Regions from separate parts of the Homo sapiens genome. Here region 2 is linked to region 1. The links come from fine-mapping of genetic effects on gene expression. Tissue or cell type: minor salivary gland. Region 1 holds a variant in brackets; the other region holds the start of a gene. All regions are shown on one strand. Distances are from middle to middle.

Region 1 (8,178 bases):
AGCATTACTGAAAACAATTACATTGTTCTCATATGCTCTCCCCATTCTCCACCCAGTTTCCTTATCCCATCTGTATCTACACGGTCAGAAAATGTAGCCATCACACGCAAAACATAGGTCCTAATAAGGGAAAAGGAGTGAGGCTGGCAAAAAAAAAAAAAACTCAGATAAGCTATAAGTCTGCCTTTCTTCTTGATCCAGAACACATAGCCCTCCTGCACAAATAACTCACAACCTTCCCACACCTGACTCATCACCAGACCCTTGGCTGATAGAAAAATGCAAGTTAGCTCGCTGCAACCTTGGTGTTAGCGATACTTCACATGGCCCACTCCAGCACACAGCACGAGCACCGTCCTGCGAAATCCCCAGCAAGCCTCTGTCTCCTGGCAGTCAGCTCCTCTCTTGCTGATCTGCCCATTGCACCCTTGCAACGTCTTTCTTTTCTTTCTTTCTTTCTCTCTGTCTCTCTTTCTCTCTTTCTCTGTTTCTCTCCTTCTCTCCTTCTTTCCTTCTTTCTTTCGACAGAGTCTCACTGTCACCCAGGCTGGAGTGCAACAGTGCGATCTCGGATCACTGCAACATCCACCTCCCAGGTTCAAGTGATTCTTCTGCCTCAGCCTCCTGAGTAGATGAGACTACAGCCATGCACCACCATACCTGGCTAATTTTTTTGTATTTTTAGTAGAGACGGGGTTTCACCATGTTGCCCAAGCTGGTCTCAAACTCCTGACCTCAGGTAATCTGCCCACCTTGGCCTCCTAAAGTGCTAGGATTACAGGCGTGAGCCACTGCATCCTACCTTTTTTTTTTTTTTTTTTTTTTTGAGACGGAGTCTCGCTCTGTCGCCCAGGCTGGAGTGCAGTGGCGGGATCTCGGCTCACTGCAAGCTCCGCCTCCCGGGTTCACGTCATTCTCCTGCCTCAGCCTGCCAAGTAGCTGGGACTACAGGCGCCCGCCACTACGCCCGGCTAATTTTTTGTATTTTTAGTAGAGACGGGGTTTCACCGTTTTAGCCGGGATGGTCTCGATCTCCTGACCTCGTGATCCGCCCGCCTCGGCCTCCCAAAGTGCTGGGATTACAGGCGTGAGCCACCTACCTTTCATACTTCAATAAATCTGCCTTTCTTTACCTACAACTGTCTTGGTAAATTCCTTTACTTCCAGTGACACTGGCCCCAAGTAGTCGCTATCCAAGACACTATACTCTCCTTTTCAGCCTTGGTTTAGCCTTGGTTCCTTATCTAGTGCTTCCATTGAGGACTCTATTGGTTGCCTGAAGGTCATTCTCTGATAGGCTCCTTGGGCCCCTCAGACCCTGAGAACATTATTTCCTGAGTCCTTTGGGGCTGCTTTTTGTTTGTGCCTTTTATACTCCAAAGTCTGTTTTGCTGGGTGCATAGTACTTGGCTCACATTTTCTCTCGAGTATTTTAAGTACAGTATGTTTCTCCTTTTTCTTCTGGCAGAACGTGTTGTGGTTGAAAAGTCGCACGACAATCTAATTTTTATTTTAGTATAAGTCCCTCACTCTTTTAACCTGGACTCAAGGATTTTTTTTTTTTTTTTAGATTGGTAATTTTACTAGAACATGTTTTGATGTTGGTTACCCTGGGTCTGTCTTCTCAAATACATGGTGTACTCTTTCAATATGTAGTTCCAAATCTTTTTGTTTTAGGGAAGTTTTCTGAAGGTACAGATGTTTGTATTTATTCTGTTCTTTCCCTAGGGTCATCTCATGGGAAGAGATGTTAGTCTTGTCAAATGTTTTGTCACTGCCTAACTTGGGACCTCACTGTTCCTAGATGTCACCTCCTGCTGCTCCTGGCTCAGGGAAGGCAGCTTAGTCTCTCGGCAGAGCAGGCCACAGCCCCCAACACCCAGGCCAGCCCCCCAGCCAGCTGCTCCTGCAGCCAGACACCTCATTGTCCAACCACTGCCTGCGTCTGTGGGTCTACCTCACCCCCATCCAACATCCACAGGGCAGCCAGAGCCCCCAGGTCTCCCACCATGGTAAGAACACACCCAGCCCTAGAGGGGCAGGCAAGGCTCCCTGGGGGCACACCCTTGTCTCTATCTTCTTGTCTCCATCTTCCTCTCGTCTCCGTCTTCCTCTTGTCTTCTGGTCAGGTCAGTGCTGTTGCTGTGAGCGGGTTGAGGCTCTTGAGATGTGAACCACTGTGGGTTTCCCCCGGACTTCCTGCTACCCACAACCCTTCCCCCATCTGGGGTGAGTGGCCCGGGAAAGGGGTGGCAGAGCGATTCACGAAGAACAGAGGGGCTGAAATCGAGGCGGCAGCAGCAGAAACCCAGGCTCTGGCCATGCCCTGCCTGCCACCCAAGCCCACAGGGAGGGTGATACGAGGACAGACAGAGAGCCGGCCCCACCTCACTTTAGGCCAAGTCCCTTTCCAGGGTGGGGTGGGAATGACAGAAGCTCAGAAAAGTTTGGGGGAACTGAGAGAGAGGGGACTGGAAAGCCCTTTCCTTCACCTTCACTCCAGCCCGAGGCAGCCTCCCAGGCACACACATCTAGAGTGGCAGAGCGCATGTCCCCAGGGGCCCGAGGGTGTGCAGCTTTGGGCGGACCCACAGGGGCCTGTCTGTTAGACACAGGGCCCACAGCCATTTCCTGCATGGCGTGACGCCCAGAGACAGACGGAACTGGGGCCACCCGACCAGGTGTCAACACTCAGGGTCAGAGGCCCCAGCTCCATGCCAACCCCACAGCCTGGACTAGGACAGACTCCCAGGACAAGAGGAGGCCCCAGAGGAACTGAGAATAAGCTGGATAGTTAGGAACAAGCTGGCCACGACCCACATCACATTCAGCCCTAGAGCCACGTGCAGCATCGGGTACGGAGCGGGAGCTGATCAATGCTTTCAGAACTGGAAATCCCAAGTCATGTGAACAGAAGAATAGGTGCACTCTGTTTGACTAGTCAGGAAGCCAAGGAACTTGCCCAGTCACCCAGCAAGAACATGGGGACGCTGGGGTCTGAGCCGGGTATTCTCTGAGGCCTGAGCCCAGCCCACCACCCACCCATCACAAGCCATGCTGAGTGCTAAGTTGGCCCCAGCCTGGCTCCTGGCTGGTCTGGGCAGGCCACCACGGCCCTGGGGCTGCAAGAAGGTGTCGGGCTAATCCCCAGGGAGGGCACTCATCTGGGAGGGAGGCCTGGGCAACTCACGGAGCCAGGGGGTAGAATTGAGGCCTGAGCAAAGGCTATGCGGCTCAGCTTTGGAGTGTCTTCAAGAGAGAAGGATGCACCCCCTGCCGCAGAGCAGACCCTCCCAGCCCATCCACCCCACATGTACCCAGAAGAGGAGGAGCTTCTCAAAC[T/C]GGTTCCCCAGGGCCTGGCCTGGCCCGGGGCCCTAGCTGTCCACCCCTCTGGCCTGAGCCAGGTTTGATTTCCTGCTACTTTGGAGGGGAGGGGTCCCGAGGCACCTAGGCCCCTGCCACTCTGAATGCAAGTGCAGTGGCTGCCAGAAGCCACTCATCCATTCACCGATTCCAGTTGTGCCCCTGTTATATGTCAGGCACTGTTCCGGGTGAAGAGGGCGGCAGAGAGCGCGCTGGCAAGCTGGCCTCATGGAGCTGGCATTCTAGTGAGGGAGTCAGACACCAAGTGAGAGGTGACATTGAGAACACAGCTAAATTGACACAGTGCCAGGTATTGTTCTAAGTGTTTTGTTCATGTCACTTAATTGTCACAGCACCCATGACATAGATATATTGCTGTCTCCACTTGCAGATGGGGAGGCCGAGACACAGAAGAGTGAACCTGAGGAGTCTGCGGCCAGAGTCCATGTTAAATACGTGAAATGGAGAGGGTATCAGATGTGGGAGTGCAGAGCAGACAAGGAAAGCAGTAGCAGGAGAGAAGCGCATGTGTCTCTGTGCGCACGTGTGTGTGTACGTGCATGTATCTGTGTGTACAGGTGTGTGTGTGTGTGCATGTGTATGGGTGTACATGTGTATATCTGCATGTACCTGTGTGCAAGCATGTGTGTACTGTATGTGTGTATGCGTAGGTTGTGTGCATGTGTGTCTGTCTGCATGTATGCATATGTGCGTCTATGAGAGGGTGCATGTGTGGCTATGTGTGTATATCTGTGTGTGTGTCTGTGTGGGCCTTGCGGGAGGTTGGTCACCATTTCTTCAGTCTTGTGGGTATACTGCTCTCTGGAGGGGGCTCTCCCGGGCACTTGAGGTGGGCTCTGTGTCTCCATTATGTGATGTGACCAGGGCCACAGAAACCAGGCTCCCTGTGCCCACGCCCACCCACTCCAGACCTGGAGAAGGGAGGTGGCACGCACAAGGGTGCACACGGCTAGAAGCCTTACCAAGCAGATGGATGCAGAGATGGCTCATTCATTCATTCTCCTAGACAACGTGGCAGGCAATGCACTGAGTTCTGAGGAAGGACCGGGGGAAGGAACCGTATTGCTGGGGACACGTTCAAATCCCAGCTCTGCCACTGCAGCTGAGAACTGAAGGACTGCAGGCCTCCCTTGGAAAGTTGCCCTGGGGATGGGGAGCCGTCGGGCTGTGAAGCACACACCCACCCACCTCCTGCTGCCACACAACCTCACGCCCCCTTTCCTGACTTCTTTTCACCCCGTCTGGGCCTGACAGGCTCAGTCCTGTCACTCCTGCCCTCCAAAGTCCAGGGGAGCTTTGTCCATAGGGCCGACTGCTCTCCCCACATTCACCCCTGCTGGGGCTGGACAGACAACTGGGGCTGTCTGCCAGAAAAGGCAGGCCCTGTGTTCTATAGAGGCACTGGGCCACAGAGGCAGGAGTGGGCTTGAGAAACGGTGCTCCTCGCACAGGCAAAGATGGGAAGGCCCCAGGATAGGGCACTGGGGCCCACAGAGGGACTGTGACCTCACAGGTGGCCATGCCTGAGACTTGCCCTAGCAGCTGGGTGTCTGCTCCTGACAGGATATGGGGTTGCGCCTGGACAGAGTTGATGAGACACATGGACAAATAAGACACATGGAAGAAGTGCCCGGAGGCACACTGCGTTGAGCGCAGACACTACCAGTGTAGACAGCCACACTGTGACGCGTTGTTGAATGGGGTGAATAGATGAAACCTCAGGTCCCAGGTCCCTCCGTCTCTGTATGGATTTGTTTTGCTACTGCCGTTCCCCAGGGCCCCCCAGTGCCTGGCACACAGCAGGTGCCCGATACATACATGCCAAACGAATAAGGAAATGGGCAAATGAGAAGGTGTGATGGGAAGGACTCATGCTGCCAGGTGGCAGGGAGGTTCTGGGTGACTTTTTCTTTTTTCTGATTTTTAAATGGCTTTGTAATAACTACAGTATATATAACTTCTAATATGAGAAAAAAGTTATTTCAATGTTTTGAAATAACCACACAGCGAGGGTAGCCACAGGGACATGAAGGGGCTTTTGGCCAGAAGCAGCCCTGTGACTCCCTCACAGTCACAGTGACCAATGTGGCATCCACACACGGCTGCGACGTGGACGTGGCCCAGGAACCACTGGCGCCGAGGGCTGGGCTGGGACTTTCTTTCCTTTTCTCAGTTCCTCCATGGCTGTCATGTTCCTGGGTGATCAATCATATTCAGGAAGGAAGGCGGGGTGGGGGTGCCCCCTGTGCAGGGGGAGTCAGCCACGGAGGTGGGGGTCGGGGCCGTGAGGCTGTGAGGGCTCCAGAGCCCGGGCTGCTCACTTCACTTCTTGGAGCCCCCATTTTCCCACCTGTAAAATGGGGTGCTGACGCAGACCCCTGGTGGTTATGAGAAGTGGCTGCTGCCGGCTCGACACTACTGTGTGCCTGGGAGGCCTCTTTCCTTCCCTTTCCCTGCCCTGCTGCTCACAGGGTTGAGCAAGACTGCTTATGCTGGTTTGCTGCCCCCAATCTCAGAACCCACAGTGGCTGCACATGGCAAGGCTGGTTCCCACCCCACTCATCACTGAGCGCCACGGCCCTGCTGCGGGCACCTCGCCCCTCTGTAACATGGGATCAGTAATGCCCATCCCTTGAGCCCCTTGAGATGAGTGGCTATGCTCAGAGGGCCCTCTGGCCCCAGCCCCACCCTCCCTCGTGGGGACCTGCACTTTCTCTGGCAGATTCCTCTACTGCGCCTGGCCACAAATATGATCTTGATAAATAACTCATCTTCATCTTACTGAAGGGACTTAGGGCAGAGATCTAGTTTACAACATGGTCCCCACAGTGTCTGACTCTAGTAGACTTCAAAAAATAACTGTTGGATGGATGCATCAAAAGGTAGACAGGTAGATGCAGGTGGGTGAACCGGAGAATGAAGGATAGGTGAGTGGCTGGTGTGAGTTTCAGTCACCTCCTTACAGCTTGCTAATGGCAGAACTGGCAAGGGTCCCACTTCAAGTCCAGACACTCAACCGCTTCTCTGAAAGAGGTCTGTGCTGCCTTTCACTCACACCCAACAACACATCTGCGTTCACTGGATCTGCACGTCAGGGACCCCCACAATCGCACACGTCAGGGACCCCCACAATCGCACCACTCTCCGGATTCCTCCCTTGGGATCCACCCCAGGAGGTTCCAGCACCTCCGACCTAGGCACATGTTTAATTTCTCCCTCCAGACATTGGCAAGGTCAGCGTCACGGACCTGGAGCACATGGCATCACACAGAGCTTCACTCAAAGGGCCCCACGTTGGTTTAATGTTCTGCTGTCACCACCATGGAATTATCAATAATTTATCTTTTTTAACATAGCCATATCGTGAAACAGATGATTTTATCTTTAAACTCGTGTTTTGTAAGTGAAGTTCAATGGGACAGCGTCAGGGTGTGTGAGCAGAGGAGACCTGTGTAATCCAAGTGTCCGGGTCCTTGCCGCCCTGTCCACATTCAGCGTTCACCGTGTCCTATGAGCACAGAATTCTGGTGGGGCTGACGTACCTGGGACGTCTGAGATCCGGGTTCCTATGGGGTGTTGGCAGAATGCACGAGCCCCAGAGGTGACAGTGGGTTTAGATTTGTGCAGCCTTTCCATTGTCCTGTAAGATCGAAATACACGTGCCTGTACGAACTGTGCACTACCCATGTGCCATTGTGGCGCGTTAGTGCACAAGTGAGACGCTCTGCGCCTAAGACGGCATCGCACCGTAAAATGATGAGCCCAACAATTCATGCGAATGACTCGACTGCTTGTTTTTCCTTTACTTAGAATGACATTAATTACCAAACTTAAAGAACCACAGCAAGTCAGGAGGAAGGAAGGGAATGGGAGGAGCCGGTGCTGAGCCCCTCAGGCCGAGTCTGGGCCCTCCCGGGGCCGCAGGAGGACCCCTGGTGTCACCGCACTTTCGCAGAAAGACCCCTGGTGGTGTCCACGGGCATTCCTGTGTTGGCTCATTCATTCATTCAGCCAGTCACCCGCAGCACGCACCGCCCACCTTCAGCGTGGCCTGGGACAGGACACCGAGGGGTTCCAGGTAGGGATCAAGCTGGGGAGGGCACTGCAGGTCACAACGGCAGGTGAAGGCGAGGAGGAGACACAGCCGGGCCCACGAACAGGGTGAGAAGAGCTTCCTGTCACTAGCAGGGACAGCGCAAGGGGGACACTGCGAGCAGGAGGTCCCTTCTCTTCCCGTGCCTCAGGGTCCCCAGAAGGAAGCTAAGTGCCTGGCTCCGGCTCTGAAGTCCCGGGGGCCGGCTCGCCTTCCCAGCAGCAGAGAACTCCGCGGAGAGGGCGCGCGCCCCCTAGCGGGCCCGGGGAAGAAGCCGGGCCGGTCCCAGCCTCCGCTCCCTTGCATACGCCTCTCCGCCAGCCTCTCTGGGGAGGGGAGGATGCCTAGCAGGTCGTGGTCTCAGCTGAAGCTTCAGGAGGGAGCTAAGCCTGACCCTGTAGGGGACTCTGCAGGGTGAGCTTGTGGCAGCAGGGCTTTCCTTACCCCCACTGCTAGTGGTTGGCTGAGGGCTGCCCTGGGAGATCTGAATTCCCAGCTACTTCTGACTCTGCATGTACAGACAAAGCAGAATCTGGTAGTCCAAGATCAGTCCTTCAGATAAAAGCTTCAGGCTCCAGCCCTCTAGAGGAAGCACACCCAGGTCAGGGGAAGGATGCACACCCACCCGCACGGTCTCTGTGCACAGGTGCACAACTGGGGCTCAGTACGGAGAATGCACACGGGACTTGCTTGCCTGTGTA
Region 2 (8,178 bases), 40 kb before region 1:
CATGTATTGACCCAGCCTCCTCCTGAGAGATGTGTGGGTGGTTCTCAAGTCTTCACCACACTGAACAGAGCGGTGACACACACTTGCACGCACCCAGTTCTTTCCCTAGAATAAATTCCTAAAAATGGAAGTCTTGGCACAAGAGTGTTCCAAGGTTACTTGGTGATACAGGTTGTGGCTGCCCTGAACAACCAGACCCCGCCACCACCGAGACGCTAGTCACCTCTGCCAGTCTGCTGCAGGAGGTGAGGTCATTTCCCATTCTTCTGTCCCAGGTGCTGACTTATTAAACCCCTACCCAATAACCATCATTTTGGTTTTTAAAACTGCTAATTCAAAAGTAAAAACCAGAACACTCTAATTTACTTGAGTCACAGGTTAATTTCTAAGTTAGAGTACACAGTGGAATTCATCTTCACTATAGGATTGGCCATTATTAAGGGAATAAAACAGAAATTAATCAATTTTTTTATTGCTCTCCAACTGTTTAGTTAGAATTAAATGAAATTTTAAACCCAGTTTCTTAGCTCACTGGCCACACTACAAGCTCAGTGACCACATGTGGCCAGTGGCTATTGTACTGCACGGTGCAAAGAGAGGACACGAACTGCCATCACCCAGGAAGGCCAGCTGGCCAGTGCTGTTCTGAAACTGAAAGTCAGGACGATGTCCACCAAAAGCCATAAAAATGGAGCTTCACACGCAAGAATTATGCGGGTGACCTGTACTACGCAAGGTACTCAGAACACTTTCTACTCCTGTGTGATGGATTTATAATGGATCCTGTCACACCTATGTCTAGTCTCCATAGCAACCAATAATGGGGTTGGGGAGGGCTCTATAGTAAAGGGGTGGAGGGGAATGTAACTAACCACAGTAACTAACATTAGCCTGCATTCTCAAAGTCTCGGTCACCATTCCTAAAAAAACAAACACTACTCCCCCTTCTAGGAAATGAAACAAAAGGGCCCTCCACTATCCAACATGAAGCTGGATATTCCTCATACCTCCGGACCTCTGTTTTCCTGTGTCATCAAGAAGGAATGCCTGGGCCACAGAGAAATGGGGATTTGTAAAAGTCAAGGTAAAAATTATTTAAAAGCGGCCAGGTGCGGTGGCTCACACCTATAATCCCAACACTTTGGGAGGCCGAGGCGGGCAGATCGTGAGGTCAGGAGTTTGAGACCAGCCTGACCAACGTGGTGAAACCCTGTCTCTACTAAAAATACAAAAATTAGCTGGGCATGGTGGCACACGCCTGTAATCCCAGCTACTTAGGAGGCTGAGGCAGGAGAATTGCTTGAACTCAGGAGGCGGAGATTGCAGTGAGCCGAGATTGCACCATGGCACTCCATCCTGGGCAACAGAGCAAAACTCTGTCTCAAAAAAAAAAAAATATATTTAAAAGCCTTGGACATTCAAAATAGAACCGCCGAAAAAACATCTAAATAAATAAAATCATATGTTTGGTTAACTATAACATTAATATTGACCTTAAAAGTAGGATGGCTCCAAGAAATGGAATCCATCCCCTAACGCTCCTTATTTTCTTAGTCCTTCACTACTTTTCTCTCCACCCTTTGCCAAACCCCTAACAGAATCAAAAGACAGAGTAAAGAGGACAAAGTTAAGCATGCACAGTAGCAGACTGTCCATACTCTCACTTGACCTGGGAACATGAAAATGTTGCAGCGTGTTTAGTTCAGGAATGCACCACTGGCCAGGCGCAGTGGCTCACGCCTGTAATCCCAGCACTTTGAAAGGCTGAGGCGGGAGGATCACTTGAGCTCAGGAATTGGAGATGAGTCTGGGCAACACAGTGAGACCTCCTCTCTATTATTAACATAATAATAATAATAAAGAAATTGAAAAAAAGAAAGCACCACTGCAAATATTCCAGTTGATTCGCCCTGCCCTCAAAAGACATGTGTCACACCAAGCAACTAACACCCATGTTGTAACTGCCCCAGAGGAAAGACGTTCAACGGCTGAGGAGACCACAGCGGCAACTAGGTCACTTCCTATTCGAAGAAAAAGGAGGAGATGCCATCTGGCAAATTCGAGGTAGGGAGACAAATCAATCGATGACGTTGCGAGGAGACAGAGGTCAAACGGGATCTACTGACATGACAGGGCGTTGAAGGGAAGGAAAAGTTGAGGGAAACGAGGAAACTATTTCCATAGGAGAATGCTTTTTCACTGAAGTCGAAACTGGCTTGGTACTGACGCCCAGCAGGGGAAACTCCCCGGACACTCACAGACATTCATCTGGTTACTTGCAGGAACATCTGCCTTTCCTGGTGACACCCTCTGCCCTGCAGTCTTCATTTTCCCTGGATAGCCCAGCGTCATTTAAATACTCAGAAGCCTCTCTGCCTTTCTATGCTGTTGTCTGCAAAGAGATGAACGGACCTGTGCAGACGGCTGGCCAGTGACGCCGGGATCTCTAGGTAACATGACCCAGTCACGGTGTCACAGACAGGCGGACCAGGAGGAAACCAGAGACACAGATGGATTCCAGGGAAAGCCAGCGTTACAGAATTAAGAAAAGCTGGGGAAGAAAAAGGAAAACGAGAATTTCCAAAACTGCCGCTTTCCCAGCAGAAGGGAGATGAAGTTGTCACTTTGGCTGCGAGGGTGCAGAGATGGAGGAAGGGTTGGGGGTGGGGGTGGTACCGCAAGGGAGAAAAATAGCTATAGGCTTCATCGCAAAGGGGTTCATGCAGAATACGCGAGGCCGGCGGCTAACTCTAAGATTGCTCTCTCGTTATTCTGTGCCTGGTGCAAAACCCACTACTCAGGGGACAACACATCCCAGCATAAAGAATGAAATCATTTCAGCAGCGAGGGCTGGGCCCGCTAGACCGTGAGGCTCCGGCGGCTTCCGCCCGTTGTCTGGTGCACCCCACCTTCAGAAGCACCTGCCCAAGATGGGAGCGACTGAAGAGAGAGGCCCCAGAGACTCTCCGAGGGGCGGCACCCCCAGATTCCCGGCCGGCGGACCAAGTTCGCAGCTCTCAAAAGACATGTCTCACACCAAGGGCCCCGGGCGGGGAGAGGAGAGAAGAGGGGAGGGGAGCAGGGCGCTGCTCCAGGGCACCTGCCTGAGCTCGGGCGCGATCCCCGGCCACAGGCGCGCGGGGTCACCGCCGGGGGACCGGGACTCAGCCCTCGGAAAGTCCGCGCCAACCCACAGGGCACCCGGGCGCCCGCTCTCCGACTGCTGTCCCGGCTGCCGACTCGTGGCCCACGTCCGCCTCAGTTTCCCCGCCCCTCACCTGCTCGAGACTTCGGAGACTGTCCCGGGGGGCGCCCAGCAGCGCGCAGAGCTCCAGCAGCCCCGAGGGCAGCGACAAGTGCGGCGACGCGGCCTCCGCCATGGCTGCCCGCCGCCCGCCGCCAGTACCGCACTCGGGCGCCTCAGCCGCGCAGTCGCCCGCAGACCCCTGGGGACCAGCCGCGCCGCCTGGGGGCCGGGGGCGCTGCGAGCGCCGTCTGCGGGGCGGGGCTGGAGGCGGGGCCTGGAGGGGCGGGGCCCGAGCCGAGGCGGGGCCTGGAGAGCCCCAGAGGATACCGCGGGGAGACAGAGTTTGGGGGCGGGGCTTGACTGGGCGGGGAGGTTCTGGGCGGGGCCTGGAGTGGCGTGCCCGGCCCTAGGGACCGGGACTTGGGGGCGGGGCCGGTCCTAGGGCGGGTGCTGCTGGAGACCCGCGCGCGGTCGTCATTTCCTAACCCGCCTGCGGGCCCTGGCGCGTGCGCGGCGTCGGAGCAAGCGGCCCCTTCCTTCGGCCCCGCCCAGCCCCGCCGGCCGCCCGCTCCCTGGGGAACCGAGGGAGGAATGGGCGGGGTCCTCAGGTGCCCGGCGACGTCATCCAGCCCCCAAGGCTCCAGGACGCAAAGGGTCCCCTGATCTGGCAGTCCCTGGACCTACCCTGGAGAGCGTGGGGGGACAAAGGCCGGACGCGCCGCCCGCTGCCGCCTCCAGGAAGCCCTCCCTTGCCAGGACAGTGGAGTTGGCCGGGTGTGGACAGCAGGAAGGGCCGGCGGGAAGGGGGGGTGGAAAGAGCCACTCCTGGTTAATAACTCTGCGGGGTTAACCTAGGGCCGGCCATACTCAAGTACGGACTTGAGTAAAATTCAGCAGGAAAAGGAGCAGGGTGGGCGCCGCTAGAGGGAGGCTTCAGGACTGAGGGTCAGAGGCCCAAGGCCTGGCAGGGCCCTTCCCTGGTCAGCTCCAGGCTTGGCCTGATGCCCGGTGGGCCACGGGCCTCTTCCAGCCTCAGGCTGACCCCAGAGAAAGAGGACAGCCCACAAGCCCGGGAGGCCGGCTTGCTGCCTGGTCATTGCTGCAGAGCCTGGAGGGGGCCTGCGCTCAGTCCCCGCTGACCGTCCCCTCCCTTGACCCTGCCATAGCCATCTGTGTAACCCAGGGGAAATTATTCCAAAGGGACTTCCACTTCTGATAATCTATGATTCTATTTTCTAAAAAACAAAACTCTAAAATGCTTAATGTCAAACATCTGTCATCAGCTGAACAGGAAAAGGAACAGTAAGTACAAAGCAAGGCAACATCAGAAAAGGGAGCCCTGAGGAATTTCTCCCTCCTTCCCTGAGCCGGGTGAGGCCGTGACTGCAGCCTGACTCACAGGTTTTATTTCACTTATTAACCTAAAGATGGTGAGGATCTGCTGGTTCTCCCCCAGGCCTGGAGGCTGCCTACCATCGGTGGCTCTCATCGGTGAGCTGAGGCCACAGTTGTTATAGTCTCTGACTTCAAAAGAAAGACCGATTTCATGAACAATTGCCTGTCTCTCTCGACGGTGGCCTCGGTTTTTTGTTGTTGTTTTTCTGTTTGTTTTTGAGACAGAGTTTTGCTCTTGTAGCCCAGGCTGGAGTGCAGTGGCATGATCTCAGCTCACTGCAACCTCTGCCTCCCAGGTTCAAGCGATTCTCCTGCCTCAGCCTCCAGAGTAGCTGGGATTACAGGCGCCCACCACCACACCTGGCTACTTTTTGTATTTTTAGTAGAGATGGGGTTTCACCATGTTGGCCAAGCTGGTCTCAAACTCCTGACCTTAGGTGATCCACCCGCCTTGGCCTCCCAAAGTGCTGGGATTACAGGCATGAGCCACCACACCCAGCCTTGGTGGCCTCATTTTTAGCAGCCTCTGCAAAGCACACAGCCTGAATCCGTCACCTAGAGTCCCCAGCATGCAGGAGAGGCGCTCTCAACCCGGGCTGGAGCCATGAGCCACTCCCTGAGGGCACACAGGGCCTGAGTCTGGCTCCTGTGTGTTGCTGTGTGACAGGTGAGCTCAACAGCCCTAAGCCGTGACTTCCTGAGGGGCAGTGGTCAAGATCCAAGGGAGGTAAACACATGGCAGCTCTTGCCACCAGGACCCAGTAAGGCTCACGCGAGAGCAGGTCTCTGCTGTCCCTTTATCACCAAGAGGCCAAATGCTTTAAGGAAGAGAGCTCCAGCAGTGCACAGAGCTTGCAATCCACTCCTTTATGCCCCCTTTTCCTCCTCCTTAAAACCAGATAATTGGGCCAGATGACCTCTGAGGGGCTCCCAGTTCTGCACTTTTTAATACGCTCCCGTCTCTCATGCCACAGGTCCTTCCAAAGTGCCTACGGAAAGCTTTGTCCCATCCTTGAAAAATTGCTAATGGGTTTGGAGATACGAGGTGGAGATGACTAGCAATCAAACTCAAAGGTGGAAGTCACATCGAGGCAGATGAGCAGATGAGGGGACCTAGAGAAGAAGAGAGGTGCAAGGAGAGCCCAGCCAGCAGGAACATCTGCCCCAGTAGGCAGCACTGCCCCACATCAGAGTCGAGGAAAGCAAAGCTCGGATTGGATAAAAGAAACTTGCAAACACGGTCAGTGCTTACTGCATGTGGGCTCAGAGCACGTTACCCTCCTTCCCTGCATGTTCCTGTGAAACGGGTTTACTGCTCTAACTCTCAGGGACACTGTGAAGACCAAACGAGAAAATAGAAACAAACATAATTTATAAACCATAAAGTACTGACACCAAAAGAGGGGCGAGCACAGCATTGTGAATGTGCTGGTACTAAATGGTTTGTTTTAAGATGATTTTATGGTGTGTGAATTTCACTTGAATAAATTTTTTTAATGGAGTTCATGGGGACGCTGCAGGATGTCAATTAACTTTGGACATTTTAGCAGCGCTTTAGGTGTTAAAATTATTTTTTAAAAAATACAGGATGAAGGGAAAAGCTTCATGACATTGGATTTGGCAGTGATTCCTTGGATATGACCCCAAAAGCACAGATAACGAAAGAAAAAATAGTTAAATTGTCTTCATCAAAATTAAAACTTTTGTACATCAAAGAACTCTTTCAAAAGAGTGAAAAAGTCACAGAATAAGAGAAAATCATATACCTGATAAAGAATTAATATTCAGAGCCAGATGCAGTGGCTCATGCCTGTAATCCCAGCACTTTGGGAGGCCAAGGCAGGCAGATCACTTGAGATCAGGAGTTCGAGACAAGCCTGGCTAAAATGGTGAAACCCCAGCTCTACTAAAAATACAAAAATTAGCCAGGCGTGGTGGCGTGCACCTGGAATCCCAGCTATTCGGGAGGCTGAGGCAGGAGAATCGCTTGAACTCAGAAGGCAGAGGTTGCAGTGAGCCAAGATCACACCACTGCACTCCAGCCTGGGCGACAAAGTGAGACTCCATCTCAAAAAAACAAAACAAAACAAAACAAAACAAAGAGTTACTATTCAGAATATATTAAGAATTCCTACAACTCAACAACAAAAAAAAATCCAACCCAATTAAAAAATGGGCAACAGACCCAAATAGACATTTCTTAGAAGACACACAAATGGCCAATAAGCTCATGAAAACATGTTTAACATCACTAATCATTAGGGAAATGCAAATCAAAGCTAAAATGAGATACCACGTCACACTCATTAGGTGTTATTTTTTAAAAATAACACAACAACAAAAAATAAGAAATGTGGGCGAGGATGTGAAGAAATTGAAACCCTTGTGGACTGTTGTTGGGGATGTAAAATGGCGCAGCTGCTGGGGAAAACAGTATGGGAGTTCCTCACAAAACTAAACAGAATTGCCAAACGACCCAGCGATCCTGCCTCTGACATATACTGGAAAGAACTGAAATAAGGCGCTGGAACAGACACTTGTAACCCATGTTCACAGCTGAGCCAAAAGGTGGGAGTAACCCAAATGTCCATCAGTGGATGAATACTGGCAATAAAAGCTGTGTCTGGAGGCCACTCCGTTTCACACAGCTCTCCACACGGGTGAGGGCACAGCCTTCTCGTCTCTTTCCTATGCTGCATCTTCAGAGCTAGCTATGATATGATATGATGTGATATGTACATATCGAATATACATGTTTTACATGCAAATGCAACCAGTTTATTGAGGGCTTGATGGGGGATATGGGAGTTGCGGGGGAGAATGGTCTTGTATTTCCAATTTAAAAATAACAACAACAAAACGGGACAGAAGTGCAAGACTTTTAGTGTTCTCTAGAGCAATGTCACTCTGTCCCTAGACGAATGGTAGGAGCGGGACATGTTCATATGTCCTCGAGGTGTGACCGCACATGGGCACACAGTAGCCCAAAGCATATCCCAGCCGGGAGCAGTTCCTTTTATGGGGCCGCCTGGGCAGGATCCAAGGTGCTGGGTTTGAAACAAAAAGGAGTGACTCTGTCCCACACCAAGTAACACCAAACCTCACTGACCTCAGTTTTCTTATCTGTAAAAAGAGCAATGCGGGGGCTGGCTCAGTGGCTCATGCCTGTAATCCCAGCACTTTGAGAGGCCGAGACAGGTGGATCACCTGAGGTCAAGAGTTCGAGACCAGCCTGGCCAACATGGTGAAACCCCGTCTCTACAAAAGTACAAAATTTAGCCGGGCATGGTGGCACATGCCTGTAATCCCAGCTACTCAGGAGGCTGAGGCAGGAGAATTGCTTGAACCCAGGGGGCGGAAGTTGCAGTGAGCCAAGATCGCACCACTGCACTCCAGCCTGGGTGACACAGTGAAACTCCATCTCAAAAAAAAAAAAATTTTTTTTTAGATTTAAAAAAGCAATGCCTACCTTGCAAGGCTGCTGGGAAAATCAAATATGCCAATAGATGTGAACAAGCCCCGTGTAGAGAATGGAA

Which allele goes with the higher level. Positions count from the first base shown, and alleles are read on the strand shown. Sizes are in standard deviations (SD) of each study's normalised expression.
As copies of T replace C in region 1, the expression in minor salivary gland of the gene that starts at base 3,499 in region 2 goes down (moderate effect, 0.42 SD a copy in GTEx).

The links. PIP is the estimated chance that this variant, and not a neighbour inherited with it, causes the effect.
Region 2: it holds the start of DENND3, and the variant in region 1 is fine-mapped to the expression of DENND3 in minor salivary gland (GTEx, PIP above 0.99).

Annotation. Positions count from the first base shown.
Region 1 is chr8:141,084,043-141,092,220 of GRCh38, reverse strand. No RefSeq gene overlaps it. Among named protein-coding and RNA genes, the nearest start is that of DENND3, 40 kb to the left of the region's middle. RefSeq lists enhancers at 2,290-2,419, 2,580-2,949, 4,564-5,064, 5,432-5,581 and silencers at 5,712-5,761, 5,792-5,861. The variant T/C (reference allele first, on the strand shown) is at 3,343.
Region 2 is chr8:141,123,910-141,132,087 of GRCh38, reverse strand. DENND3 (DENN domain containing 3) reads right to left here and starts at 3,499. Exons shown (of 23, transcript NM_001352890.3): 1 at 3,279-3,499. The coding sequence starts at 3,380. DENND3-AS1 (DENND3 antisense RNA 1) reads left to right here and starts at 1,947. Exons shown (of 2, transcript NR_183310.1): 1 at 1,947-2,064; 2 at 5,617-7,410. RefSeq lists enhancers at 2,408-3,238, 4,072-4,903 and a silencer at 3,094-3,953.